Homo sapiens: one gene and its partners. The protein of the gene in region 3 purifies or fractionates together with the protein of the main gene of each other region. This does not show direct contact. Each region holds a gene or a part of one and is shown on either strand. Other genes may lie near its edges.

Region 1 (6,193 bases), on a different chromosome or scaffold from region 3:
AAGCATATAGAGTGAAAAGATAGTCTGTCTTAGCTGGGCATTATGGGCATTATGTGATTATGGCTCACACCTATAATCCCAGCACTTTGGAAGGCCGAGGCAGGTGGATCACCTGAGGTCGGGAGTTTGAGACCAGTCTGGCCAACATGGCGAAACTCGTCTCTACTAAAAATACAAAAATTAGCCAGGCATGATGGCTCACGCCTGTAGTCCCAGCTACTCAGGAGGCTAAGGCAGGAGAATCACTTGAACCTGGGAGATGGAGGTTGCAGTGAGCTGAGATCTTGCTACTGCACTCCAGCCTGGGTGAGAGAGCAAGAGTCTGTCTCAATAGAAAAAAAAAAGATAGTCTGTCTCCTTCACTTTGTCCCCTCAACCAGCCAGTTTTCTTTCTCAGGAGCATTTGCTTTGTTAATCTGTTGTGTGGTCTTTCTACCTAGGCATATGTACATGTCTTCATGCATATGTATATGTATTTTTTGTTGTTTTCACAAAATCGTAGCATATTATACACACTGTTCCTCTGTACCTTTTTTTAAAAAAAAAACTTAATCTGTGTTTGCTTTGCTTTTGGAGGCCATGCTTTTTTTTTTTAAGTTTGTGGGTTTGTTCCGATGGTTACCTTAAAAGCTATGATTTTATATATAATATAATATGCTCACTGACTTCCCTCAAGTAACAATTACTAAATTAGTTTTACTTTCATTTCCTTTTCTCCCCCGACTTTCTTTATTTTCCAGATTTAATGGTTATATTGTTTTTATTAGTATTTATGTTTATACCCTTAAATTGTTTATTTTTTTATTTTTGAGACAAGTTCTCTCCCTCTTTCTTAGGCTGGAGTGCAGTGGCATGATCACAGCTCGCTGTAGCCTCGACCACCTGGACCCAAGTGATCTTCCTGCCTCAGCCTCCTGTGTAGCTGGGACCACAGGCATGTGTCACCACCCCTGGCTAATTTATTATTTTTTTTTGTAGAGATGGGGGTCTCACTATGTTGCCAGGACTGGTCTTGAACCCCAGGGCTCCAGTGATCTTCCTGCCCCAGTCTCTCAAAGTGTTCATATTATAGTCATGAGCCACTGAGCCTGGCCGATTTAATTTAATATCTTTAAATGCTATTTTGTGATCCTGTCCATATTTTATAGGCCCAACAATAACAATTTTTTTGTGGTAAAATATACAAACCATAAAATGTACCATTTTAACCATTTTTAAGTGTACAATTCAGTGCTATTAAGTACATTGACAGTGTTGTGCACCCATCACCACCAACGGTCTCTTGAACTTTTTCATCATCCCAAATTAAAATTCTGTACCCATTAAACAAAAAGTCCCCATTACCTGAAGAATAAACCTCCATTTTACTGTAAGGTAGAGCTATCTGAGGACAAAACCTTAATGTGTAAATTTCAGCTGTTTCTTTCATTTTCTGTTCCAAGTTTCATTTCTACATTCCTCCTCAGTTCTTATTCTCAGTTCTCTAATTTCTGAGCCTTTGCAGGGCAAATTAGTTCATTCTCATTGATATATCTTCTCTTCAGATATTAATACTTAAGTTATAGCTATCTCCCCTCTGCTAGATGAGTTACCATTCTTCCAAACACTTTCTATCTTTCAAAAATACATTGAAATTTCTCATCTTCTGACTGGTTCTTTTTCATTACTTGTCCTTTTGGTTTTATACCTTTTTTATTCCCCTATTTAATTTTCTTTGAGTTTTAGAAGGGAGAAGAAATGAGAGGTTGTATGCCATATTTATCCTGAAGTCTAAAATTAATTAATTTTTTAAATTAATTGAGACTAACTTTTTAGTGCTGATATGATTTTAGGTACATGTGAATTGGTGATAACACATTGTATTCTCTCTCCTAGATTGCTTAGATTGAGATTGATAACATATTAGCCTTCTTACTCATTTAAAATTCTTTGTCTGGGGTAGGGGAAATGGGAAGATACTGCTCAAAGGTTATACATTTTCAGCTGTAAGTTGAATAAGTTCTAGCAATCTAGTGAGCAGTATGGTAACTGCAGTTAATAATAATGTATGATATACTTGAAATTTGCTAAGGGAGTAGATCATAAGTGTTCTCACCACACAAAACGTGTAACTATGTGAGGTGATGGTTATATTAATTAGCTTGATTATGGGTATCATCACAGAAGGTATACTTGTATCAAAACACCATGTTGCATACTCTAAATATATACAGTTTTTTATATGTCTGTTATATGTCGATAAGTCTTGAAAAAACAAAAATATTAAAAAAGATTCTCAAGTTTTTAAAGACTGATAGTTTTTCTGTAGTTGTAATGTAAAATAGTCACATTCCATTTTGATCCATGGTAACAATTTAAAAAATGACTTTAGGCCGGGCGCGGTGGCTCACGCCTGTAAGTAATCCCAGCGCTTTGGGAGGCAGAGGTGGGTGGATCACCTGAGGTCGGGAATTCGAGACCAGCCTGACCAACATGGAGAAACCCCATCTCTACTAAAAATATAAAACTAGCTGAGCGTGGTGGCGCATGCCTGTAATCTCAGCTACTCGGGAGGCTGAGGCAGGAGAATTGCTTGAACCCGGGAGGCGGAGGTTGCAGTGAGCGGACATTGCACCACTGCCCTCCAGCCTGGCGATAGAGTGAGACTTCATCTCAGATAGATAGATAGATAGATAGATACATAGATACATAAATACATAGATACATAGATAATGACTTTATTCTTTTTTCTTGTTATTTAGTGGATGGAAGCACAGTATATGCAGAGAGTGTGATTCTGACTACTGGGACATTTCTGAGAGGCATGATTGTAATTGGATTGGAGACGCATCCAGCAGGACGTTTAGGGGATCAGCCTTCTATAGGATTGGCTCAGACACTGGAGAAGTTAGGGTTTGTGGTGGGAAGGTTGAAGACTGGGACTCCACCCCGAATTGCCAAAGAGTCCATTAATTTCAGTATTCTAAACAAGCATATACCGGACAATCCATCCATACCATTCAGCTTTACCAATGAGACAGTATGGATTAAGGTAAGATACTTTACGAAAACCTGGCTTACAGCTGGTATTGGCTATTCACAGCAGGAAGTACTGTAACTTTTTTTTTTTTTTTTTGGCAGCAGTTCACTTTATAGCACTATTGCTTATAGTGCAAAGAAATGATTTTTTTTTTTTTTTTTTGAGATAAGGTCTCACCTTGTCACCCAGGCTGGAGTGCAGTGGTACAATTATGGGTCACTACAGCCTTGACCTCCTGGGCTCAAGTGATCCTCCCACCTCAACCCCCTTGAGTAGCTGAGACCATAGGCATGAGCCATTGTGCCTGGCTTTTTAAAATTTTTTTGAGAAATGGGGTTTCACTATGTTGCCCAGGCTGGTCTCGAACTCCTGGGCTCAAAGGATCCACCCCCCTTGGCCTCCCAAAGTGCTGGGATTGCAGGTGTAAACCACCGAACCCAGCCAAAGAAGTTATCCTTTTTTTTTTTTGTGGTGGAGACTTGCTCTGTCACCCAGACTGGAGAGCAGTGGCACGATCTCAGCTCACTGCAACGTCTGCCTCCTGGGTTCAAGCAGTTCTTCTGCCTCAGCCTCCCGAGTATACAGGCACGCGCCACCACACCCGGCTAATTTTTATATTTTTAATAGAGACAGTGTTTCACCATATTGGCCAGGCTGGTCTCGAACTCCTGACCTCGTGATCCACCCATTTCAGCCTCTCAAAGTGCTGGGATTATAGGCGTCAGCCACTGCACTCAGCCTAAAGAAGTAATCTCTAAAAGGGATTAGCTAACTTGGCTAATTGGGTATTTCCCCATAAATCGTAAATTTCTTTTTTTTGTTTTTTTGAGACAGTCTCAGTCTGTCGCCCTGCTGGAGCGCAATGGTGAAATCTTGGTGCACTGCAACTTCCGCATCCTGGGTTCAAGCGATTCTCCCACCTCAGCCTCCCTAGTAGCTGGGATTGCAAGCACCCGCCATCATGCCTGGCTAATTTTTATAGTTTTGTAGAGACGGGGTTTCACCATGTTGGCCAGGCTGGTTTTGAACTCCTGACCTTAGGTGATCCGCCTGCCTCAACCTCCCAAAGTGCTGGTGCTGGGATTACAGATGTGAGCCACTGCACCCGACTTTTTTTTTTTTCTTTTTTTGAGACGGAGTTTCGCCATTGTTGCCCAGGCTGGAGTGCAATGGCGCAATCTCGGCTTACTGCAACCTCCGCCTCCCAGGTTCAAGCAATTCTCCTGCCTCAGCCTCCTGAGTAGCTGGGATTACAGGCTCCTGCCGCCACACTGGCTAATTTTTGTATTTTTAATAGAGACGGTGTTTTGCCATGTTGGCCGGGCTGGTTTCAAACTCCTTACCTTAGGTAATCCACCCTCCTCAGCCTCCCAAAGTGCTAGCATTACAGGCGTGAGCCACCGTGCCTGGCAAATCTTAAATTTCATTACTTTTATAACCTTACATATTTTGTAAATTAAGCTTTTATTTTAAAAAATTTTTTCATTTATTATTATTTTTAATAGAGACAGGGTCTCGCCATATTGCCCAGGCTGGTCTCGTACTCCTGAGCTCAAGCCATCCGCCCACCTCAGCCTCTCAAAGTGCTGGGATTACAGGCATGAGCGACCGCACCTGGTCAAATAGGCGTTTTTTGTTTTGTTTTGTTTTGCTTTTTGAGATGGAGATTCAGTCTTGTTGCCCAACCTGTGGTGCAATGGCACGATCTCAGCTCACTGCAGCCTCCGCCCCCTGGGTTCAAGCAATTCTCCTGCCTCAGCCTCCCTAGTAGCTGGGATTACAGGTGCCCGCCGCCATGCCCAGCTAATTTGTTTTTGCATTTTTAGTAGAGACAGGGTTTCACCATGTTGATCAGGCTGGTCTTGAACTCTTTTTTTTTTTTTTTCTTTGAGATGGCATTTCACTCTTGTTGCCCAGGCTGGAACGCAACAGCACAATCTCGGCTCACTGCAACATCCACCTCACGGGTTCGAGCAATTCTCCCGCCTCAGTCTCTTAAGTAGCTGGGATTACAGGCATGTGCCACCACACCTGGCTAATTTTGTATTTTTAGTAGATGGGGTTTCTCCATGTTGGTCAGGCTGGTCACGAGCTCCCGACCTCAGGTGATCCGCCCGCCTCGGCCTCCCAAAGTGTTGGGATTACAGGTGTGAGCCATCGCACCCAACTGGTCTCAAACTCTTGACCTCAGGTGATCCACCTTCAGCCTCCCAAAATGCTGGGATTACAGGCGTAAGCCACCATGCCCGGCCTAAATTAAGCTTTTGAAACGATATCAGGTGGTGCTGCTGGAAAGGCAGCCGCCCCCTTGCCCATTACACAATGCATTTTTATGGAGAACCCGACACTGAACCATTCTTAGATGACCTGCTTCTGGGGTGGGATTTCAGACATAGCAGAGCAACTTCCTCGCTGCGATCTATTGAAAGTTAACCCTCAGCTGGGCGTGGTGGCTCATGCCTGTAATCCCAACAGTTTGGGAGGCTGAGGCAGGTGGATCACTTGAGGTCAGGAGTTCAAGACCAGTCTGGCCAACATGGTGAAACTCCATCCCTACTAAAAATAAAAAAAAAATAAAAAAATTAGCCAGGCATGGTGGCTCATGCCTGTAATCCCAGCTACTCGGGAGGCTGAGGCAGGAAAATTGCTCGAACCTGGGAGGCAGAGGTTGCAGTTAGCTGTGATTGTGCCACTGCACTCCAGCCTCCAGCCTGGGCAACAGCAAGACTCCATCTCAAAAAAAAAAAAAAAAAAAGAAAGTTAACCCTCAACGCATATAATTTTATTTTAAAAAGACGGAGAAAAACAAAAAAAAGTAAGCAACATCGAGAAAAAGTTGTAAGACTTTTCTCAATGTAAGAGTTTTTTCACAACAAACTCCTATAAACCATTGAACGTCACTCACTGTTAATATTTTACCATATTTATCGCTATAGATATATCAATTTATGTCCATATTTACTGTGTAAGATGGTAATATACACATTTATTCTTATTCTTTTTTTTCTGGAATATTTGGGAGTAAATTGCAGAGATGATGAGCTCTTACCTTAAGCCTATATCTCAACTAAGCACAGAGACATCCTTTTATATAACCCTTATGCAATGATGAAATTCAGAGTACGATGCAGGGACAATAAAATTTAAATTTTTTTTTTTTTTTTGAGACGGAGC
Region 2 (6,193 bases), on a different chromosome or scaffold from region 3:
TGGGCAACATAGGAGACCTTATCTCTACAAAAAAAAAAAAAAAAAAAAGAAGAAGAAGAAGAAGAAGAAAAATAGCCAGGTGTGGTGGTGCACACCTATAGTGCAAGCTACTTAGGAGGCTCAGGTGGGAGGATCACTTCAGCTCAGGAGTTCAAGGCTGCAATGATTCATGATCGCACCTCTGTATTCCAGCTGGAACAATAGAGCAAGACCCTGACTAGAAAAAAAAAAAAAAGACACCAAAAGGTAAAGTGAAGATAGACCTACCAGGGACCTTGGGACTCAAGAAATGACGTGGTGGCAAATTCTGGGTTTTCTTTTTGCCTCATATATCCTAGACTTGGAGCTGAAGAAGCTGGAAACACCAAGGGGCACAAACAAGGAAAAAAAAAAAAAGTCCCAACAAACCCCTGCTCTCTCTTGCCAAGAGATCAGGGAAGGACGCTGCCTAGGAAAACAGAAAACTTTCAGACAACAGGCCAGGCGTGGTGGCTCATGCCTGTAATCTCAGCACTTTGGGAGGTCAACATGGGAGGACTGCTTGAGTTCAAGAGTTCAAGACCAGCCTGGGCAATATGGGGAGGCCTCGTCTCTACAAAAAATAAAAAAAAATTAACTGAGAATGGTGGCGCATGCCTGTGATCCCAGCTACTCAGGAGGATTACTCGAGCCCAGGAGGTCAAGGCTGCACTGAGCCACGATCGCACCACTGCACTCCCCTCTGGGCGACAGAGGGAGACCCTGTCTCAAAAATGAGTGAATAGATAGAAATAGATAATAGACAAATGTACATCTTAAGAACCTAGAAAAGTAAGAACAAAATGCACCTTAAAGCAAGCAGAAGGAAGAAAATAAAAATAGAAATGAATAAAAAAATGTAGAACAAAAAAATAGAGGAAAAAACGAAACAAAGAGCTAATTCTTTGGAAGAAAAAATTCAATAACATAAGCAAATCTAGCTAATGGGTAAGCATATGCTAGATAAGGTGTCCTTTAAACCTCTAGCAAGGCTGACAAAGAAAAAAGAGAAAAGACACAAATTACTATTATAAGAATGATAAAAAGATATCACTATAAACCCTGCAGACATCAAAAGAGTAGGGAGGCCAGGCATGGGGGCTCACTCCTGTAATCCTAGCACTTTGGGAGGCCAAGGTGGGCGGATCGCTTGAGCTCAGGAGTTACAGACCAGACTGGGCAACATGGCAAAACCCCATCTCTACAAAATAAAATAAAATTAAATTAAATTAAAATAAATTAGTTGGATGTGACGGCACATGCCTGTAGTCCCAGCTACTGGAGAGGCTGAGATGAGAGGATCACTTGAGCCTGGGAAGTTGAGGCTGCAGTGAGCTATGATCACACTACTACACTCTAGCCTGGGCGATAGAAAAATGCCGTCTCAAGAACAAAAGACAAAAAACAAAAAGAATAAGGGACTATACAAACACTGACAACTTGGACAAAATGGATAAATTTATCAGAAACAAACCACAAGTCACCCATATGAAATAGATAATTGGAACAGTCCTATAAAAACTTTTAGGTTAACTAAATTCATAACTGTAAATCTCCTAATAAAGAAATCTCCAGGCCCAGACCGTTTCACTGGTGAGTTCTACCAAATACTTAAGAAAAGTTAACACCAATTATACACAATATCTTCTAAAAAACAGAAGAGGATGCAATGCTTCCTAATTCATTTTATGAAGTATTACTCTGATGCCAAACCAAAGATAGCACAAAAAGAAAATTAGACTCATATTCCTCATGAATATAGACACAATAACCCATAACAAAACATTAGAAGATAGAATTAAGAGATACACTATATGACAAAGTAGGGCTCATGCAAGACTGTCTCAATACTTGAAAATCAATCATATTAATCATATAAAATCACCATATTAACAGGCTAAGGAAGAAAAATCATATAATCCTATCAATCAACACAGACAAAACATCTGACAAAAAGTTAATATTGAAAGTTAATGATAAAAAAATTTCAGAAAAATAGGAATACAACAGAACTTTCATAACTTGACAAAGATCATCTACCAAAAATTTACAGTTAACATTATACTTAATGATGAAACAACAGATACTTTTCCCTTAAAATGGGAAACAAGGCAAGGATGTCCACTCTCACTACTCTTATTCAACACAGTGCGGAAGTTGCAGCCAGTGAAATATAGCAAGAAAAGGAGATAAAAGGCATACAGATAGAAAAGGGAGAAATAAAACTCTCCGTATCTGCAGATAAATAAAACCTCCATATTTGAAGATGATTGTCCACATTAAAAAAATGACAATCTATCCAAAAATACTCCTAGAACTGAGTCCAGCAATGTCACAGAATACAAGATAAACATAAAATTAACTGTATGTCTAGATTCTAGTAATGAACACCAAAATTATATATAATCACTTTATTCTAAAATTTACATGGAAAGACAAATGAGTTAGAATATCTAAAAACAATTGTGAAAATAAAGGATAAAGTAGGAGGAATGAGTCTGCCCAATTTCAGACTTAAACAGCTACAGCTTAAGACAGTGGGACTGACAGAGGAACATACATATAGATCACATACAGCTCAATCTAACACAGTGGGGAACTTAGAAATAGACTCACACAAATACGCTCAACTGATTTTTAAGAAAGGTGCAAAAGCAATTCAATGAGAAAAGATAGGTGCCAGAACACCCGAACATACTATCCACCCCACAAAAAGGAACCTCAAGTTAAATCTCACACTTGACATAAAAATTCAAAATGCATCACAGACTTAAATGTAATATGTAGGCCAGGTGCTGTGGCTCACGCCTGTAACTCTAGCACTTCAGGAAGCCAAGGCCGAAGGACTGCTTGAGGTCAGAAGTTCGAGACCACCCTAAGCAATACGGAGACACCCCCACCTCTACAAAAAATTTTAAAAATTAGCCAGGCATGGCAGCATGGATGTGTAGTCCCATCTACTTGGGAGGCTGAGGCATAAGGATCACTTGAGCCCAGGACTTTGAGGTTACAGTGAACTGTGACTGTGCCACTGTACTTCAGCCTGGGTGACAGAATGAGACCCTGTCTCTAAATAAAAAATAAATGTAATATGTAAAACAATATTACTTTTATTTATTTTTTAAATAGGAGAGAGTCTTTGAGATCTAGGACTAGGCAAAGAGTTAATAAGACCTGAAACTAAAAGCATGATCCATAAAAAGCGGTAAATTAGACTTAATCAAAATGAAATATTTTGGTTCTATGAAAGACCCTATTAAGAAAATGAAAACTACATACTGGGAGAAAATATGTGTAAACTACATATCTGACAAAGATTGCCAGATTTGTGATCATCAGGGATCATGGAAGGGTGGGGGTGGGGTTAGTATGGCCATAAGATAGCAACATAAGGGATCCTTGGAATCCATGAAAATGTTCTATCTCTCTCTCTCTCTTTTTTTTTTTTTTAAAGAGATAGGGTCTCACTTTGCTGCCCAAGCTAAGTGTAGTGGCACGATCATAGCTCACTGCAACCTTGAACTCCTGGGCTCAAACAATACTCTTGCCGCAGACGCCTGAGCTGACAGGGGCACAACATCATGCCAAGGTAGCTTTTAAATTTCTTGTAGAGACCAGAACTTACCATATTGTCCAGGCTGGTCTAGCCTCAAGGGATCCTGTGGCCTCAGACTCCCAAAGCACTGGGATTAAAGGTTCCCTATCTTAACTGTCAGTATCATGGTTGTGATGTTGTAGCATAGTTTTGACAAAATGTTTCCATCAATGGAAACTTTGTAAAAGGTACAAAGAATCTCATTTCTTAGGATTGCATGTCAATCTACAATTATCTCAAAACTAAAAGTTTAATGAAGACTTTTTTTTTTTTTTTGAGACAGGGTCTCTGTTGCCCAGGCTGTAGTTCAGTGGCACAAAAAAACAGCTCACTGCAACCTTGACCACCCAGGCTCAAGAGATCCTCCCACCTCACCTTCCCAAGTAGCTAAGACCACAGACACATGCCACCAGGCCTAGCTAATTTTTTTTTTTTTTTTGTAGAGATAGGGTCTCTCTATGTTGCCCAGGCTAATCTCAAGATCTTTAGCTCAAGTGATCCTCCCACCTCAGTCTCCCAAAAGTGATGAAAAAAAATTTTTTAATCAATAGTGAGGCTGGTTGAGGTGCCTCACGCCTGTAATCCCAGCACTTTGGGAGGCTGAGGCGGCTAGATTGCTTGAAGCCAGGAGTTCGAGACCAGCCTGGGCAACGTGGCGCAACCCCACCTCTACAAGAAATAAAGTAGCCAGGCGTGGTGGTGCATGTCTATAGTCCCAGCTACTGCAGAGGCTGAGGTAGGAAAATCACTTGAGCCCGGCAGACAGAGGCTGCAGTGAGCCGAGATCACGCCACTGTACTCAAGCCTGGGCAACAGAGTGAGACCTTGTCTCTAAATAAATAAACTGTGAAAAGCACAATCATGACCAATTACCACAGATTTCTTAAGTGTGAAATACCTAAGCCTCAACCACATTAACTAAATATTAAATTAAAATACTAATTTTAACTTTCTACTGTAAATATGTCTTAAAAGAGTCATATTTCCAGAGCTACTGGTATTAATAAAAGTCACATGATTACAACTGCAAGCTAAATATACAATGACGAATTATTACTAAAATTTTGAGGTCTAATTTAGGTATTTATGCTGCCCTGACAAAAAGCCTGAATTTTCTTAATCAAGAGAGTTGTTAAACCAATGAATAACGTGCACCTTCTACTTGCAAACACTATTCTGAAAAGTTTCGTATCTATATTCTTCATCTCTAACACTGAGGCTACATATGAGTCTAGAAGGGAAACAACAGAAGTTCACTCAGCTACTGGGATAAATCCAAGTGAGATGACTCCATATCAATCTAACTCACTGATAAAAAATACCTATTTAAGATAAACCACTTGTTTCTCATCTCTTCCATAAGTTTTCAACTTCCTCAAAAATTACTCTTAGAGCAAAAAGAAACGTTCAGACAGACCTTATTCAAAAAGTTCTCCCAGCTATAGTACACGCAATTTGGTCTCACATTACCAATTTTCTCGTTTAAAATATGTAAAATTTGCTCCCATATATATTTCTTTAAGTTTATATTCTTACAAAGGATTTGTTCATGGCACGTTTCACTTCATCAGAACCATCTGAATAGATCTGCTGAAATAATCTGTTTAAAGCTGCATCTCCCTCCAACTTTTCATTCTTTTCTTCTTCTTTGATCTCACCAACCAATTTATCCCAATTTCTTGTATAAGGAGATGATGATGGATATAGGTTCTTTACATCTATGAAGTAAAAAAAGGCAGAAGTAATTAATCAACATGTTTCAATTATGTCGAGAATATGTAAACTTTGTGACCATGTATATGGAACATCTTAGCAAACAGTTTAGGTTACTGAATTTCAGGTATGCAATAAGTGTCTTTCTGGTATATAGGTCAATAACAAAATTCACATTTCTAAAAACTGAGTCAGTTACCATAATGTAAAATCTGGGGATTTCTTTTGAGCAAAATAACTCAATAAAGTGTAAACTTTTGATATGCTATACAAAATTAGATTAAAAGCAGATTCTTCATGTTGATAACAGAAACTAGATGAAAAGTATACAGAACTTTTATGTTTTCAGAAAAGTTGCAGAGACAGTACGAACAATTCTAAAAATGAAATTTTTTAAAGGATGCCTAAGAAATCTTTTGTAACTAAGATTTTAATAAATGTTAAAAATGTGACTTTTTCTAAAGTACTTAGTATCTTTCAGAGTATAAATAGCCTGAAAATATAAATAATCATCCATGCCACTCCATACTCTCCCATCAAAAAAGTAAGATTATTTTAATAGGCAATAACAGTAAGTAATTTCTAAATGTTTAAAGTACTACACTTGATGATCTAAAGTTCAATGCCCACATCCCATACACCTAGCAAATAATAGTATTTGTAGGGCACACTGGAGTAAACAGAGCTGCTTGCAGCGAGAGAGGCTACTGGCCCAGGGGCTCGGGGTACTGCCAAGATTGCTCCAAAGACCAAAGGCATCAAGATCTTGGCACACAAATAATTAGAAAATAACTAGACAACCTAGTAGCTATAGGAGCAGCTCTGTTGACTATCCAATGAAAATATAATGACAGCCTCAAATGTGAG
Region 3 (6,147 bases):
TGTAGGACCTAGGTCAGTGGACAAGGAACTGGGATCTAAGCTGGAGTTTAGGGTGGTGGATGCTCGGTTCGTGCTCTCCACAAAGAGAACCTAAGGCTATGGATGGGTTGGAGCCTCCCAACCTGAAGAATAAACTTCATCTCCTAATGTGCCTCATTATATGATACTCTGTTTTTATTTTATTTTTATTGAGACAGGGTCTCACTATGTCACCCCGGTTGGGGGTGCAGTGGCATGATCATAGCTCACTGCAGCCTTGAATTCCTGGGCTCAAGTGATCCTCTCACCTTAGCTTCCTAAGTACCTCCAGGCATGTGCCACCACACCTGGCTAATGTTTAAATTTTTTGTAGAGACTGGGTCTCACTATGTTGCCCAGGTTTGTCTTGAACGCCTGGCCTCAAGCAGTCCTCTTGCCTTGGCCCCCCCAAAGTGCTGGGATTACAGGCGTGAGCCACCATGCCTGGAATTTTATTTATTTTCATGTTCTGGCTTTAAGCTTTTATGAAATCTATTTAAGTGTTTCAGCCTGATCTCATGGTCGTGCTGAGCCTCATGCAGTGTTTCTCACCAGGAGGGCTACAGGAACTTTGTACTGGACTCTGCCATACATTGTTGGATGCTTAGCATCTCTGGCCCCAGAGGCACCTGCCAATCATTGAGACACCCTCACCCCCCTCCACACACACACCCGACTTACTCTCAAAACATCCCCATTTAATAGCCACTCAGGAAGGGTCCATCATGCCTGTCTAGATCATTAACAGGAAGATGGCACAGATACACACCCCACCAGATCCGTGTGGCAGAGTTCATGAATAAGAGAATGCCCAGGGGGTCAGGATGAGAGTTGGGGCTTCCAGATGCAACCACCTCTCCCTACTTGGAGATGCTCTTTCCATTACCAGCTCAAGAATCTGGTCTTGTTGACTAAGGAAAGAGGCAGTTTCCTTACATGTTTGCTGAAATAAACACACATAAAGTCCTCCATCCGACAAGAGTTGCTGATCTTCAGTGCCTTTCTACCAAAAGATTTTCTTACAAATGTCCTTCTCTCCTCAAATCTGAGCACATCTTGTGTTTTTTTAATCAGTAAAAAGGTCATCCCTTACAGGTGGGGCTCAGGAGAAGAGAGGCAGGAAATGGGAAGGTGAATTGGGACCGAGGAAATGGAGAAGGGCAGTGGAAACTTATATAGGATAGGGTGAGGAAAAAAGAGTTGGAGCCAGACTGTGAGCCCCTTAGGAACAGGAATCACCTCTGATTCCTTTCTTTCTTTTAGAGACAGCTCACTCTGTCACCCAGGCTGGAGTGCAGTGGCACAATCATGGCTCACTGCAACCTTGAACTCCTGGGCTCAAGTGATCCTCCAACCTCAGCCTCCTGAGTAGCTGAAACCACAGGTGTGCACCACCAGGCTCAGTTAATTTTTATTTTTAATTTAATATTTTAATTTTTATTTAATATTTTATTTTTGTTTTGTTTTTGAGGCAGGGTCTGGCTCTGTCACCCAGGCTGGAGTGCAGCGGCTTTATCTCAGCTCACTGCAAACTCCACCTCGAGGCTCCAGCGATCCTCCCGCCTAAGTCTCCTGAGTAGCTGGGATTACAGGTGCCTGTCACCATGCCTGGCTAATTTTTGTATTTTTGGTAGAGATGGGATTTTGCCATGTTGCCCAGACTGGTCTTGAACTCCTAGGCTCCAACGATCTGCCCACTTCGGCTTCCCAAAGTGCTAGAACTACAGGTGTGAGCCACCATGCCGGGCCATTATTTTCACTTCTGTAGAAACATGGTCTCACTAGGTTGCCCAGGCTGGTCCTGAACTCCTGGCCTCAAGTGATCCTTCCTCCTAAAGTGCTGGGAGTACAGGCATGAACCACCATGCCCAGCCTCTGATTGCTTTAAATGTCCCCAAAACACAGCACAAGGCCTGGCACATAGCACATTCTCAATAATTGTGGATTGAATGAATAAAAATTCAGGGGTCACAAGCTATAAGGGATTTAGTGTTGCAACTCAGTGCAGAAGAAAGGAAGGAAAGCCGGGCTTTCCTTGAGAATCCAGCTGTGGGCTAGGACTGGGGGATTGGGCCAGGGAAGAACACAGACTCAAAAGCTGCACCTGGTCAGGGGTAGGGGCAAGGTGGGGCTTGGAGAGGGTGCATACCTCAGGTTGAGGTACTGCAATGATTTCATTTCTCTGGAGAAGCCACTCAGGGTGTCAATCTGGTTGTCTCGAAGATGCAAGGTGGTGAGATTGCTCAGATCCTCCAAGCCTTCCACCTTCTTCAGCATGTTTTGGGCCTAGACCCCCAGGGCACAGTGGATTGATTGAGAGGGAGCAGGGATAGGGAAGAAAGAGAAGTCAGAATGAGATAAAGCAAAAGAGGAAATCCAAGAGGTAGAGAGGGAGGAGTGGAAGAAAGGAGTGGGGGTGAGTAGAGATCAGTATAGAAAGTAAAGAAGTTCAGGAGAAGCTGCCATCCCAGAGAAAGGTCAGCAGTAACCCTCTACCATTCGCCCCATCAAAGCCACTTGGGATGGAGGAGATGCTTCAACCCACCCCTACCCGGCCCAGGAGCCCCCAGGCCACCACTGAGGATTGGCATCAGCACCATCCCAGAATAACGAAGCTTAAGAGTCTAAAAGACTAAATATTTCAGTGGCTTCCTGTGGAGTTATTATATATATAATATATAATATATTATATAATATATAAAATATATATTATATATTATATATTATATACTATTATATATAATATTTATATATTATATATAATATACTATTATATATAATATTTATATATTATATAAAATATATTATATATAATATACTATTATATATATTTATATATTATATATATTATATATAATATATACTATTATATATATTTATGTATTATATATAATTATATATAATATATTATATATAATTATATATAATATATAATTATATATTATATCTAATTATATATATTATATATAATTATATATTATATATAATATATAATTATATATTATATATTTTATATATAATATATAATATATAATATATAATTATATATTATATATTATATGTAATTATATATTATATATAATATATAATTATATAATATATAATATATATTTATATATAATATATAATTATATAATATATAATATATATATCGGTTTTCATCCACAGTCCCTAGCTTATAACCCCCATAATAGCCCTTCTTGCAGTCTTTTGTTATAAAGTTGGGTGTGCTGGGCCTCAGGGGCAGGTCTCAGGAACTTCTCCAGCCGTCTTTTCACCTGCTCCAAGAGAAAGCGCTAATCTTTCCCCCCACTCCCTCTTTCTGACTGTGATTCTTTCTTTTTTTTTTTTTGAAACAGAGTCTAGCTCTGTTGCCCAGGCTGGAGTGCAGTGGCGCAATCTCGGCTCACTGCAAGCCCCGCCTCCTGGGTTCACGCCATTCTCCTGCCTCAGCCTCCCGAGTAGCTGGGACTACAGGTGCCTGCCACCACACGCAGCTAATTTTTTTTTTTTGTATTTTTAGTAGAGACGGGGTTTCACCGTGTTTTTCTTTGGTTTTTTTTTTTTTTTTTTTTTTTTGAGATGGAGTCTTGCTCTGTCTCCCAGGCTGGATTGCAGTGGCGTGATCTCAGCTCACTGCAAACTCTGCCTTCTGGGTTCAAGCCATTCTGCTGCCTCAGCCTCCCTAGTAGCTGGGATTACAGGCGCATGTCAGCACACTGGGCTAATTTTTGTATTTTTAGTAGAGACAGAGTTTCGCCATGTTGGCCAGGCTGGTTTCGAACTCCGGACCTCAGGTGATCCGCCCGCCTCAGCCTCCCAAAGTGCTGGGATTACAGACATGAGCCACCGCGCCCGGCCTGATTGTGGTTCTTAAGACCCTCCCCAGCGACAGCCTCCCCAGTTTCCTGGGGGAAGGAATACTAAGATCATGAAGCTTCCATGAAAAGCCAAGAGGACTGGGTCCAGAGAGCTTCTGGGTAGCTGAACACGTGAAAGCTTTTGGAGGGTGATGCATCTGGGAAGGGCATGGAGCACTGCACCCATATCCCCATACTTCGCCCTAAGCATCTCTTCATCTGTATCCTTTGCCCTTGCAATAAACTAATAAAAACCACTCTAGAAAATTAATTAAATCCAGAGAAGAGGTCATGGGAACCAGCTTCATGTTGAAGCTGGTGTGTCAGAAGTTCTGGAGGCTTGGACTTGCAACTGGTGTATGTGGGCGGTGTAGGGGTCACTCTTGGGAACCGAGCCCTCAATCTGTGGGATTTGATGCCATCCCCAGGTAGACAGTGAATCGAATTAGAGATCACCCAGCTGGTGTCTACTACTTGGTGTATGGGGAGAAACCCCCACACCTTTGGTCCCGGAAGTCGTATGTTGATGATTGTTGTGGTGGTAGTGTAAGAGCTGAAGAAAAACCCAGTCTGAGAGGAGGGTTTTCCTAAAACATTTCCACAGACTGATGTTTGTACCTCAATTATGGTCCATTTTGCTACTACCTGTATCAAGGTAAATTATCTCTGTATTATCCACACATTATATATTATCAGCCCTGCTAGGTGGCTGTGTATCTCCACAGCATCTGGAACCAACTATGGTCTTGATAATAATACCAGTTATTATCATAATGATGAAGTTAGTAGCTGAGCCTACTAGAAAGCAGGCATCCTGACCCCCAGGACAGTGCCCTCTTCCCTGCACCACCCTCTGACCCAGTGAGCTACCAGGTAGAGGTTCTTCAGCTTAGGAAGATTGATTCCCAGGGTGCTTTCCAGCTGGTTCCCCCGAAGCTCCACTGTGTGCAGGCTGATCAACTTCTCGGGGTCCAGACCTGTCACCATGTGGATGCTGTTCCCTGGGGAGGAGGGTTTCAAGAGCTCAAAGGGCCACTCCAAATGCTCAGCATTAGAGCCTGAATTTGGGGAGCCTCTAAATCATCCTACCATTCGCAAAGCAGGGTAGATACTGAGGAAGGCCAGCTCCAGACTTAATACCTCTGGAGCCCTGAGGCAAGTGGTGTGGTAGGTAGTCCAAGGTCCTGATGGACATATCCACCTAAGCCTTTGAAGAGTGAATGAAGCAGCTGACATGTCTAATTCCCTCTCCTTCTTCAATTCTTTGCTCAAATGTCATCTTCTCAGTGATGGTTGTCCTAACCAATCTATTTGACATTGCCACCTGTGTCCCCCATTCCTCTTACTCTGATCTATTTTTTCCAAGGCACTTGTCTCCTTTTAACATGCTACATGAATGTACTTACTGTGTTTGTTGTTACTTGTTTGTCTCTCCCAATTAGAATATAAGCTATATGAGAATAGGGACGTTCCTTGTCTTATTGGATCCTATATGGTTAGCATGTAGAACTGTCATAATGAATCATATTGCGTATCTGAATGAATGAATGAATGCAGACTGCCATGTGCCCTAGCCAAGGACCATACTGCCCACTTCTGTTGGCCTCAGGCTAGGAAGGAAAGAATCTTGTGTAGCCCATCCTAAAGACCCACCTTTGAGATTCAGGGTTTCAAGACGAGGATGAGAGATGCCTTCAGTGTCAGTAATCTGGTTATAAGCAAAACTAGCAATCTGCAGGTAGGGCAGTTCATTCATCTGGGCACTTCGCAGCCGATTGCCATCAGCCTTGAGCCAGAGCAGGTGGGTGAGGTAGTTGAGTGGAGACAGGTCTGTCAGGTGGTTCTCAGAAATATCCACATAGCGCAGATGGATGTAGGAGCGCAGCAAGTAGATGTCTGTCAGGTCCCTAGGAGATGGAAGAGGGAGAAGAAACCAGGTTTAGGGTTAAGCACCCAGTGAGGACTGGCAGAGTTGCTAAAGCAGAAGGCAATATGGAGATGGCTTATAATGGGGAGAAGAATGGGCAACAGATGGTAGGGGAGAAGAAGGGTAAGAGAAGGTAGGTGGGTTCTTAACAGTGGGCAGAGAGACCTGTGTCTGTGAAGGACAGAGAACCCATACTCTGAAAGACAAATAAGGGAATCCAGCAGGAATCCCCCCATATACTCTCAATCTCCAATTCCCCAGGTCAGCTTTGATAGGAGAAGTCTCAGAGCTCCTGAAAAGTAAATTCTGTCCTTCCCTTTCCACTAGGCATGAGAAGAGTCA
Region 4 (6,193 bases), on a different chromosome or scaffold from region 3:
GGTCTTGTCTGAAAGAAGACATAGAAGAAGAAAAAACTGGGTGACAAAGTAGAAGAAAATTCTCAATACAAAGGAACATGAAGATTCCTTGGTAAGAAGAATTATATATGCTAACTCTCTTCACTGACAAGATGATTAAATAAAGTTAAACTTCCAAGTCACTGTAGCATGTTTGTTAAACACTGGAATTTGTCTCTGCATGTTAACATTAACATTCATGCACTGTGTGGGAGTTTTATAGATGTCAATGTTCATTTTTCCCCTCCTGCTTCCCCATGTTTCACATCTGTTTTCTATATATACTATCCCGTAACATAAGATTTTAGGGCATAGTGAGGGTATCTAGAGTTATATGCCCCAACAACAACAACAACAACAAAAAACAGCCTCTCAGAATGCTATGCCCTGAGTTTCTTATTTGTTATTTAATAGTAACTCTCCTTTCACTTTTATCTGGCTTTTCTCCATGTACTCCTATGAGATACACAAAGGTTTTCGTGATGAGGACAACCTGTTCCTCAAAAGACTAAGTTATTAAAGTGTTCACTAATGGAGCGGCACATCTAACATTTTTTACAGACTGAATATGCACTTTTATTTTTCAAATGTAAATAGATGCTCTTGAGATTGCATAACATAAATATACATTTTAAAAGTGCCACTGAGGTTATGGTAAATTTTTGAAATTAGGTCTAATTCTTAACAGACAAGGAATACAGCTCTTCATGAAAAGGGGACTAACTTTTTTTGTTAAAAGAGAAATAAAAGTTAGATAATAAATCAAAGGAAACTTTTCTCCTATAAGCAAATCACAAGTAGTCTGTAACACCTATAAAGTTGTTCCAAGTCATTCTAACCTTAGAGTATGATTCTCAACTATCTTCAAGAAAGCTGAAATTACTAAATAAATGAAGAATTAGTATACCCTTGCTCATCAATATTTCAAAAAAGTTGGTCAGGCATCTTAGGTTCTCATTATTTTTTTACCTAGCATATCCAGAAGATAGGGATTTCAAAGAGTCATAAAAATCTACCACAATTTCATTCAAAGGAAAGAGATATTTAAGCATAACTCTATTTTGATCAATAAATATCATATTCTTCTGAACTGCTCTTCGAGCCTAAAAAGGGAAGGAAGAAAATGGGTTTAATGATAACCTACTCAAATACTGAGGAATGATGTATTTCTCTAAAGGTCTAGTAAAAACTTATAGGCAGTATTTATAATCCAGAGAGAAACATTTTATATTTCAATTGCATTAGGCTTGCTACCAAAGCTTTTAATCTTTATCTAACAATTTTATCTTTTAAAATGAACACTATTTCATTTAACAGTAAATCAAATGTAACTACATATAAAGTCAAAAGTCCTAATTTCTTGTTTTACAAATAATTAGGTCCAGAGAAATTAAAAGTTAAGACCAAGATTACAATCTAGTTTTTAACCTAATCAAAGCTCAGTCACCATTTGACACACTTTCCAATATGTATCAGAGTATTTCACATAGGTATTTTTAAGGAATATAATTACATACCATTTGTGGATTAAATCATTTATTACAATGTGGTGAGAACTAAAGCAAAATGGGAGTACCTTCAAATTTATGGTCCCTGAAGTACTATAATTATCTTTCAAACTACTCAAAAAGGCGAAATTATACATTTAGCTAATTATCAAATTTCTTTCCTTTGGGCTAACATATCAAATCAGTAAATTACACAAATTATCAGAAATATTTTTATTTAAAATCAAAATAATTTAAAAAGTATACATATCTATGTGTATAGATATAGACAGATATATATATGAAAATCTCATTAAATTCAGTATGCTCAGCAGAAAGAAATCTTTTAAAACCTGAGTTGGAAATCACTATTTCAGAGGACTAAAACCTAATTTTGTATTAAATTGTATTATAGTTATACCTCGCAAAGCATCATTATTTTTCCAGTGTATTCATCTGGTGTGATAATAGTGCCCAAAACAACTGGCTCCAAATATTCTGTTACTTTTGATTTATCGGGGAATTGTGCAGGATTGATAATTGTAATTTCTTTTTCTCTATGTTCCTAAAAATTAGAAAAATCAGCAATACTTAAAATCTTAATATAATGATTATCATTTTTCTTGTTTGCCTTATATTTTAAAATCCCTCCAGCTGTAATCATTTAATATTAATAACAAGTATTAGTAAACAATATATTCCAATTATTGATATTTACTAAACATATTTCATGGACCATTTAGAAGAAGTATGACAAAAGAATACACTTTAACCTGACACTTATAAAACATTATAGTCTAATAAGTTAATTTTGTTGGAAAATATTTAGATTGCCAAAATTAGTATTTGTTTAAAATGAACAGATTGCCACTTACATGGAATACAATACTGTCTTCATCACTGATTTGAAATTTAAAATTTCCCAGTCACCAGAATGAATGCTTCACTTTTTACGAGATAAATTACTTATGACCAAAATTACATTTTTCATCTTTGTGCTAGAATCAGAACATTATTTTCACTACTAATTTTACCTTTTACTATCAGCAATAGACTAGTTTTGATAATCTGGAGATTACATCAGGTTAAGAAAAATATTGCATAAATTAGTTTTCAAAAAAGTTCTTCATCATTAGCCATAGGGTAATTCAATGTTTATTACTACTAATCAATAAATATTTTGTTTAATACTTAATCAGCTATTGGTATAGTAAAAAGCTTCTCCTGCATTGTATATACACACATTTATTTTTTCCAAGAGACTAATGCAAAACAGTACTAAATACCAGTACTAAATACCAAGTACCTTTATCAATTTTGATGATGACAGTACAGCTTTATATGGAACAGTAGGGGTTGTTAAAATAACAGAAGCATTATATTCTTGCTCCAGTCGCTGGTTGAAAACTTCCATGTGCAAAAGTCCAAGAAATCCTAGCCTGGGGGAGGAAAAGACAAACTCCAAAATGTTTATGTCCCATGGGCTTCATTTTTTTTTTTTTTAATGAACATATTGTTACTTTAAGGGAGGGATGGAATTAAGTCATTCAAACAATTCACAATATAATTAAATGCTAGCATAATTTTATTAAATAAGATTAAAATCTTCCATTGGGAATCTATTTTAAATCACTATAAAACTTACCCATAAAATGTCAATCCGCAACGTGAAACAGGCAGATAAAAATTGTTTTCGTTCACTTTACACTAATATAAACTTATTTTCAGTAAATGTTCCAGAACAATGCACCATTTTATACCTCCCTTACTTATAAAGATATTTTTTAAAAACCTCCCTTTCCTATAAAAATATTTTTAAAATACACCATTTACACCTCCCTTTCCTATAAAACACATGTGAATGAATCTTACCTCCAGCCAGCACCCAGAGCAAGGCTACTATCCCGATGAACGGTCACACTGGAATCATTTAAAGTCAGTTTTTCTATAGCACTCTTCAGATTGTTATATTCAGATTGGTCTAGAGGATACATTCCTGGGGATACAATGATTTCTAATTATCACGTGATAAGCTGCCTACAGACCTATCAAACCACATGTGTAGTGCTGCCAAGTTCCAAATTAGTCATTTACCTTTTAAATTACTTTCTTGTATTTTATTGACCAAAATATTGGTTTGCTAAAAATGAATGATTATTTGGTTTCAAAGTATCTTACAAGTCATTAGTCTGAAAGAATATACAACTAGATTTGCACTCCAAATAATGTTTTTAATGTTTTTGAAAAAATACAGGGAAAAGAAAAAAAAAAACATGGGAATTAGGCCTATTAAGAAAACACAGTGTAATTTCAAAAACAAAAGCACAAGACATTCCACAACCCAAATGAAACTTTATTATTGGATAAAAATAGAAGTAGACATGAAAACTATACTGCACTCTCAATTCTCTAAGGCAGATTATCTACTTAAAACCATAGTTAAATTTTGCTTTTTGGTATTTACTGACAAAAACTATGGGAATCACTACTGATTCTCTTTCATCTGACACCTCTGAAGTCCTCTAAAATCCACATGACTGACTTTGCCTAAAGGTAGGGGTAAACAAAGTTCCTAATTCCCAGTGAGAGAGACTGTAGGGCAAAAATTAAGGGCTAGATACTCAGCACAGAGTAACCTGATGACCTTCAATCAGGTCTTCCTTTTTCCAAAGTAAATGAAGTAAAAGATTCTGAAATTATACGTACTTGAGGCAACACCATTCTGTCATATCTACATTAGTACAGTACAATATTAAAGAAAGTCTATCGAAGATGAAGGCACTCAGTCAGTGTCTACTGATAATTACTAATAAGAACATCCTAATTAGAAAAATGTTTCAAATATAATAATGAACTCCCTAGAAAAATAAGAAAGAAATTTATATTACTGTATCCTATATATCACAGCTTCTTCCTCAAGAACTTATTTCTTAACACATCCTAAATGATCTCCCACATATAATTTCATCACACATATGTAATTATAAACTGATAAACAGCACAAAGTGAAACAATATGCTGGAATTAGTGGTTATTTAAAATAACCAGAATGTGTATTTTTTCCTTAACCACTGAGACAGACTTTTAGTTTAAAAATATCATGGCCCTCAACCTTTGAATTTGTGAACTCCTCACCTGCAAATACCATTGGTTTCGCTGATTTAAACCCAGGCAAGGGCTCCACTGGTTGCTTATGTAAACATAATGTATCTCCTATTTGCGCTTCAGTGACATCTTTCATCCCAGCAATCAGATAGCCCACCTGTCCTGCATATCTAAATAAAATTATTATATGCAAATATTTACTGCTTTAATGTTTCAAGCACATAACTCACAATTAGTTCTACCTTCCCAGGAAACTATCATACACTTTCCAAACTTTCCATACACTTTGAAAATAAGTGCTACATATCAATTATCAAACTCTGAAGCTTGTCAGCAAATGAACACACCAGGTCTTACAATCCATTAGACCTCTCTACTTATAAACCTAATGCCTTTTTCATGATTCTGCCAACCTTTGCAATTTAAACAGCAGTTTCTAAAATATATGTAAATACAGTGAAACTAGTAAGTACAAAAGCATTATAATAAGTACACTTGTGATGTCTTTTATTAATGAATTGTGTTGAAAATGTTCTTTAACAAAGGAAAAAAAGGTAAATTTTTATCCAAGAAAAATGTGAACTCTCAACAAACTGGACACTTGATATTCCTCCTGTAGCAAAAGAGCAAATCCTATGAGTTCAGTTTAAGCTTAGTTAAAAAAAAAAATCCCTACAAAACTAAAATGATTTACACTTAGAATGAGCTTTAAGAACCTTAAATGAAGATGTGATAATGTTTGGTATATATGGCAGAATATAAATAGATGTTAAAATATTTCAGTAAAATAAAAATAGACTTTCTGACTCAATATAGTGCTGTTTTTAGACATATAACACTAAACACTCAAATGTGATCTGACAGTCATCTGGTTCAATAATTTCTACAGACAAGGAACAGGACCTTACAAAGCTCAAATTATGTACCCAAGGTCATGCCTCATCAGTACCTGATACGGAGTAGGCACTCAATAAATAGTTCTTTTACAAGTCAATTCAGATGTTTTTCTAATGCACACTACCCTTGCTAATCCTACTCCCCAAGAATTTTAATCAAGGTTTTACCATGAATTCCACACTAAAGATTTATTAAGGTTTCTATTATACCACCTTTACATTGGAAAATCTAGTTATGAAGAAATGTCAAAAATGATACCTAATATGGATATGGGTGGAGGGAACTAACTCTTTCATTGTCTCATCAAATACATCGATATAGGATCCAATCTACCCTTGATCATAAATCTAGTTATAACTAGTCATTTAGAATAAAAAAAGTATCAACTGACGTTTCTATTGTCCTTCCCATGAGATTCCTTGACAGAGCATTTACTGTATAGTTGCATTAAATAGTTTTTTTTAAGTTACCAAATGAGGATCATTCTAAGCATACCAAGTTGAGAAAAATGCAGAAATAGAACCACATACAAATGCATTTTAATTTTACTAATGCAGATTACTTACAATTTATGAGTTGGCTGCTCATTAGGATTCAAGACTCCTACTTCATTAACTTCGTATGTCTTTTGAGTATGTGCAGATACAATTTTATCTCCTTTGGAAACCACTCCGTCAAATAATGCT
Region 5 (6,193 bases), on a different chromosome or scaffold from region 3:
TATCAAAGAGGAAGTCTAGATGTCCCATCATGTTACAACAATGACAAAAAGTGGTTTCTAAAAATTGTTCAGGATCATTATGTTGAACTTTAAATGAACTTGAAATACGCCCCAGCCCCCGATATATAGCGGTATTTTGCCATAAGGAGTAACCACCTGTAGTCCTGTTTTCCTTCTTTGTCTCTCATTGACATGGTGCACCTGCAATAGTTAAATAAGAAAACATTAAACATTGAAAGCAGCACTGGCCAGCCTATATGTGGGGAAGGGCTCCCCTACCAATAAGGGGCACAGGCAAAATCAAACTCTGTGGACTTCCATGGGGAAACCTTAAATGAATACATTCAAAAAACAATCATAAAGAAAGCGAAATGTACAGAATGATCTTTTTTTTTTTTTTTTAAAGGAAATGACTTCAATGTAGCCATCTTTCAGCCAGCTCAAACTCGGCTTTTGAGCTTTTTTCAGTATTCTGCTTTAAGTATACAATGCTCAAAATTCTGAGTGAGAAAATTAAGGCCCAAGTTATCTAAACAAAAATAAGGCATCTCTACAACCAGGTCTTCACTCTGTTCCGCCTCTAGCTTCAGCTGGGAAAGATCTGATAGATTAAGGAAGTAAAAATTCTTGCCACAAGGCAGGTAAGCTGGAAGCAGAGAAGGAAAGGGCCTAAAACGAAGCCCTTGGGCACAGTCTGGGTCACTTCAAGCCTCCTGGCAGCCCTAGGGTATATTATATCCCTATAGGGTACAGTACTTTTCTTTTTTTTTTTTCTTTGAGACGGAGTCTTGCTCTGTCGCCCAGGCTGGAGTGCAGTGGCACTATCTCGGCTCACTGCAAGCTCCGCCTCCTGGGTTTACGCCATTCTCCTGCCTCAGCCTCCCGAGTAGCTGGCACTACAGGCGCCCGCCACCACACCTGGCTAATTTTTTGTATTTTTAGTAGAGACGGGGTTTCACCATGTTAGCCAGGATGGTCTCGATCTCCTGACCTCGTGATCCGCCCGCCTCGGCCTCCCAAAGTGCTGGGATTACAGGCGTGAGCCACGGCGCCTGGCCTTCTTTTTTGTTTTTGAGAGGAGTCTCGCTCTGTCGCCCAGGCTGGAGTGCGGTGGCAACATCTCAGCTCACTGCAAGCGCCGCCTCCCGGGTTCATGCCATTCTCCTGCCTCAGCCTCCCAAATAGCTGGGACTACAGGCACCCATCACCATGCCCGGCTAATTTTTTGTATTTTTTTAGTAGAGACAGGATTTCACCATGTTAGCCAGGATGGTCTCGATCTCCCGACCTCGTGATCTGCCCATTGCCTCCCAAAGTGCTGGGATTACAGGCATGAAGGGTACAGTACTTTTCTAATTGTACTAATGAGGAAACCTAAAAGTGGAGACGCTACGTGCCTCCTTCAAGGTCACATGGCTGGTCAGTGGCTGAGCCCAGCCCTCTCGCACCACCCCCGGCTGTGGTCAGGACGCTCAGCAATGCGAACTCACCCCAGCTTGTGATGAAATGAGCGTGTTTCGTTCAGAATTTCACCTCCATTCTCAAGTTCATTGATTTGCCTCTGAATTTCATAGTCTAGGAAAAACACACTAATTTAGCATCATATTTTGATTATACCTTTCATCCAGTCAAGCAATAATTAGAAACAACCTTTCTCAATCTCTAAGTTAAAAAAAAAAAAAATCAAGAAGATTGTTTATAATAATCCTTCCCTTACACACTATATTTCCTTCTCACTGCCATCGTAGAATATTGGTGTTGGAAAGGGCCTTAGGAAGGCAGGCTCACTCCGTGTTGAGACAATTCAGGTTCAGAGAGATTAAGCAACCCCATGCAGATGACATGACTTGGCAGAAGTGGGGCTGGGCCCAATATCTCGGTCTGAGATTGCTGCCTACCCAGGGCCCTTACCCTGGGAGTCTGGGATGGGCTTCAAAGGCTCTGGTATCCCCAAAATTATACACAAAGTGTGGGTTGTGTGCATATGTGCAGGTTTTGGAGAGAGGGTCCAGCATTTACATTATCTTTTCAGAGGGACCCACGACCCCAAATGATTAAGATCCAAGGACCCATGCCTCAGCATCAAATGAGGGAGGCTGTGGGAATCAAAACACAACCACAATTGCTAAGCTGTTGCTGCTTTTTTTTTCTTTTTTTGAGAGATGGGGGTCTCACTATGTTTTCCAGCCTAGTCTCAATCTCTTGGTCTCAAACAATCCTCCTGCCTTGGCCTCCCAAAGTGCTGGGATTACAGGCATGAGCCACTAAGCCCAGCCTGCTAAACTGCTTTATGAAAATATCTTGAGCCTCCACCTTAACTCTCCCTCCCACCATGTACTACCTTCCCTTGCCCAAACCTAAACCCTTTTATCTGAGTTGCTAAGAGGCAGCAACAGCAAAACGTGTCAGTTTTTGCTCCCCATCTCTCCCCAACTCCAGTGATCTCTTTGGTTGACACGAGATGATGGCTAAATGGCCTGACATAGGGAGAAAAAGGTGGTGAAAAATCACAGGCTTGGAGAATTGAACCCATAGTAAAGCTTTGGCTCTTCCACTCTGAGTCAGACCACAGGGAGATTTCTCCCTCAGACTGGTCCTCCAAAGAGTTCTTCATAGGACAGGAGAAGGTTAGGGGTCTCCTTCAGAACTCATGGATGACTCTACCTAAAATTGGGCTGCTTTTTTAAGGTTACCATCACCACCTCTTAAAATAACGGGTCCCAGCCCACTACCTACAGGGGGAGGTGGAACTTCCTCCATTTGTTCCAGGCTTCCTCCTCACCAACTTGGCTTATAAGGGTTTTCCCTGACTCAAACCTTTCATGGCTTTGGGAACATGGGCTATGTCCCTTTCCGGATGCAGAACAGTTCACCATCTTTAGTCTGCCTTCATATAGGAGCCTATCCCTTCCCTCTCTGCTCCCATAAGCTATCCGTTTGACCACTTTAATGCCTTTTTCCTGAAGACTGTCTTCATTGAGTGGTTGATTCACTTCAGGTTCAGGACAATAAGGTCTAATACAAGACTAGAATCATCTTTTCTGTACTGTTTCTAATACTTTTCTTGACAAGACCAGGGCTCTATTAAACATTTTGGCTACAGCAAAACTTTGGCAACAGATTCAGTTGTCTTGGTCTCTGTGCACCCTTGAAGGGGTGCACTTCAAACTCCATCCCTCCCTCTTCCTCTCTAGATAGCTTCGGTTTTAAAAAATCTTTTTAGTCCTCTGAGGTCCTCCCCTTGAATTCACAGTTACCTATATCTACGGGACTGCTCAGATATTTATCTTGCTAAACTATTTTAGTTATTATACATTTATCATCAAAGAAATACCCACAGTGTGTGCTCCAGAAAGACTACTACTTCACTGCATGGGCACATAATCTAGCAGTTAAAAAGAATATAAAAAGCAGGAAAACATAATGACCATTTAGGTCAAGCCATGGTCAATCTAAAATGAACAACCATGACCTAGTAAATCTCAAGCTGGTCAGAAAGAAGGTGGTAAATGGTAAAACACAGCCATGATCTTTTGTGGATCCTCTGATAAAGAGGTGGAGTCTAATTTCCCCTCAAGTCTGCTTTGAATTCAATGTAATTTTCTTTTTTTTTCTTAGAGACAGAGTCTTGCTCTGTCGCCCAGGCTAGAGTGCAGTGGCGTGATCACAGCTCACTACAACCTCAAACTCCTGGACTCAAGTGATCCTCCCACCTCAGCCTCTTGAGTAGCTGGGACTACAGGTGCTCACCACCATGCCTGGCTAAATTTTTAATTTTTTATAGAGATGGGGTCTTGCTATGTTGCCCAGGTGGTCTTGAACTCGTGGCCTCAAGCAATCCACCCACCTTGGCTTCCCAAAGTGCTGGGATTATAGGCATGAGGCACTGTGCCTGGCCTCAATCTACTTTGAATAGAACACATTGGAAGTGACACTGTGTGAGGTCTACAGCTTAGGACTCACTTCTGCCTTCATCCTCCCGAAATGCTCCCACTGCCTCATAAGAAAGCCAAGGCTAGGCAAGTGCATGAAGAAAGATCACATGGATGGAGAAGCCCAGCAGACATCAGCATCAAGGCCCCAAGGTATGAGAGCGACTACCATGGACCCTCTGCTTCAGCTGGCCTGCCGGTTTCCCACAGCCACATGAGTGAGCCGACACAGGACCAACAGAACGGACCAGTGAAAACGAAAGTAGTTCTTGTGTAAGCCACTAAGTTTCTGGGTTGTTTGTTACCCAGCAAGAGAGAAACAATAGGAAGAAGGACACTAGGAGCGGCAGCTGGCATTCACCTATGGCTTTGGCCAGGAACCTGATGCTGTTGAGATTCTTCACTTCCGTTCGAACGCCCAAAGGCTCCCCAGGGTGATGCACGGATATATTGGCATCCACTCTCAACTGGCCCTCTGGAAGGAGAGAAGAAAACAACTCCTTAGAAATTCTTTGAGGTGACATAGTCTTTTAAAGGCAGGGAGTGTCAAAGGAAGCAGCATCTAACTCTACCTGCTGTTTAGTTATAGCAGCCTAACTTCAGAGAAGGCACGGTTGGTTCTGAAGTAGGTCGTGGCTGGTACTTCTGGCCACTCGAGAGGGGTTACAGTCCTGAGGCATCTACAGTGTGTGCCTGTACATGTGAACATATACAGATGTGTGTGCTTATGCACATATGGAAGAGAAGTTTTAGATTCGCCAGCTGGAGAGATCTAATTTTTTTGTGCTAAACAAGAAAAACAAAACTATTAAAATGGAGATTGACTCTGCAGTTTTATACTGAAGTTTTTTTTCAAAGTGTCAGAGCTGAGTTGGAGGAAAGGCCTCATATATCTGATAACCCTACACTGCTCTCCATTGGAATGTGGATTTCTAACAGTGATTCCAGGAGATTTAGAGGAGAGTCCTTGAGAATTTGCAGCTCAAGGGCAAGAACTGAAATCTGGGCTTTCCCCCCTCCTCCTTCCTCCAGGTACTGTAATAATCTCTTCCTTCCACAAACATGACTCCGAATCCTTCCTGACTGCTCTAACGATTTGCTACAGCAGACAGACAGCACTGTTACGAAGTCAGGAGTCTGTGGTGGGACTCAGAGAGGTGCTGACCCCATGCTGGGAGGACCTTCTTTGACCCTGGAGGCCCCTCAGATTAGGAGCAACAAGCCCTAAAGAAGCAGGCAATGTGTGGGGAGGACTAAAAGGCTCTTGAGGAAGAGAGAGAGAGAAAAATCCCAAGACAAATAGATGTAGGTAAGAAAGAATCACATTTGGCACCCTACAAAGTAAAGCTCTCAGATTCTCTGTTCCTCGTTTCATTTACAACATTTAAAAGAGAACAGAGTGAGAAGACAAAATGCTGGATTTTATTTTCCTAGTTACGTTTTTAAATTAAAAGTAATCTGCCAAACCTGAGTGTCTTGATGGGCTGAATAAATTCATTTCCCAAGATTCCAAAGCAAAAGCATATTAAAATAATAAAGTAGTCAAAATGAATTCCATGTCAAGAAAAGGAGACCCTTGGAACTGGTTCTCTGTCATTCTCCCAGTGCTGGGCTGTGGGGCCTATACCAAGCTGGAGGTCGCCGGCGGCCCGTGGCTGACACCTCACCACTCACCCTCAGAGAAAGGGAAGGGCTCGCCCAATTGCCACCCGTGCTGACAGGGAAAAGATGTCTCTTAGCTCAGACATTACTCTCTCCAGCACTGACTTCTCAACACTTTTACAAGAATTCTGTAACCCCTGATTTTTAATCCCTTTTTTGACAAGTTGTGTGTATCTGCATCTCAGGAAGTCCCAACTATTCCTGACACCGTGAGACTCTCGGTCTAGGAACCCTGAGGTCATCTTCTACTTCTCTGTTTTCTTTGCCCCTTATATCCAAACTGGCAACTAGCCCCTACCAGTTTGGAAGCTGTCAAATATCACTAATGTCTGTCACGGCCTTTCCATTTCCATGGCTACCACCCTTGCCCAAGGTGCCTCGCCCGAGGTCTCCGAACTTTAGGCTTAGGTGATAAGAGCACATCCTGACTCAACACAGTTCCCTCCTTGTCCAGGGACTGGCAATGTGGCTGTAACTTTCATCCTGCTATATATAGTCTGGGTTCATCATTCCTGCTGTTTACTCAACAGCACAGACAGCTCCTACCGGATTATCTGGGCTCCTCTGCTTGGTGCTCCACAGCTGTCATCTGGATTCAG

The links.
Region 1: the proteins of LRRC23 (region 3) and MTO1 purify together in Homo sapiens (affinity purification with mass spectrometry; one large-scale study listed by BioGRID and IntAct). This does not show direct contact.
Region 2: the proteins of LRRC23 (region 3) and SUGT1 purify together in Homo sapiens (affinity purification with mass spectrometry; one large-scale study listed by BioGRID and IntAct). This does not show direct contact.
Region 4: the proteins of LRRC23 (region 3) and GUF1 purify together in Homo sapiens (affinity purification with mass spectrometry; one large-scale study listed by BioGRID and IntAct). This does not show direct contact.
Region 5: the proteins of LRRC23 (region 3) and GATB purify together in Homo sapiens (affinity purification with mass spectrometry; one large-scale study listed by BioGRID and IntAct). This does not show direct contact.

What each region holds. Positions count from the first base shown.
Region 1 is NC_000006.12:73,470,624-73,476,816, forward strand, and holds part of MTO1 (5-taurinomethyluridine-[tRNA] synthase subunit MTO1, mitochondrial), read left to right. Parts: intron 1-2,741; coding exon 2,742-3,031; intron 3,032-6,193. UniProt on the Homo sapiens protein: Component of the GTPBP3-MTO1 complex that catalyzes the 5-taurinomethyluridine (taum(5)U) modification at the 34th wobble position (U34) of mitochondrial tRNAs (mt-tRNAs), which plays a role in mt-tRNA decoding and mitochondrial translation.
Region 2 is NC_000013.11:52,679,112-52,685,304, reverse strand, and holds part of SUGT1 (protein SGT1 homolog), read right to left. Parts: intron 5,332-6,193; coding exon 5,150-5,331; intron 1-5,149. UniProt on the Homo sapiens protein: May play a role in ubiquitination and subsequent proteasomal degradation of target proteins.
Region 3 is NC_000012.12:6,906,047-6,912,193, reverse strand, and holds part of LRRC23 (leucine-rich repeat-containing protein 23), read right to left. Parts: intron 5,786-6,147; coding exon 5,532-5,785; intron 4,880-5,531; coding exon 4,749-4,879; intron 2,305-4,748; coding exon 2,168-2,304; intron 1-2,167. UniProt on the Homo sapiens protein: Essential for sperm motility and male fertility. Plays an important role in the proper assembly of the third radial spoke (RS3) head and the bridge structure between RS2 and RS3 in the sperm flagella.
Region 4 is NC_000004.12:44,686,594-44,692,786, reverse strand, and holds part of GUF1 (translation factor GUF1, mitochondrial), read right to left. Parts: coding exon 6,074-6,193; intron 4,781-6,073; coding exon 4,641-4,780; intron 3,502-4,640; coding exon 3,378-3,501; exon of another isoform or gene 3,377-3,377; intron 2,945-3,376; coding exon 2,812-2,944; intron 2,071-2,811; coding exon 1,927-2,070; intron 1,122-1,926; coding exon 988-1,121; intron 1-987. UniProt on the Homo sapiens protein: Promotes mitochondrial protein synthesis. May act as a fidelity factor of the translation reaction, by catalyzing a one-codon backward translocation of tRNAs on improperly translocated ribosomes. Binds to mitochondrial ribosomes in a GTP-dependent manner.
Region 5 is NC_000004.12:151,703,695-151,709,887, forward strand, and holds part of GATB (glutamyl-tRNA(Gln) amidotransferase subunit B, mitochondrial isoform 1 precursor), read right to left. Parts: intron 4,408-6,193; coding exon 4,294-4,407; intron 1,576-4,293; coding exon 1,491-1,575; intron 202-1,490; coding exon 157-201; intron 1-156. UniProt on the Homo sapiens protein: Allows the formation of correctly charged Gln-tRNA(Gln) through the transamidation of misacylated Glu-tRNA(Gln) in the mitochondria. The reaction takes place in the presence of glutamine and ATP through an activated gamma-phospho-Glu-tRNA(Gln).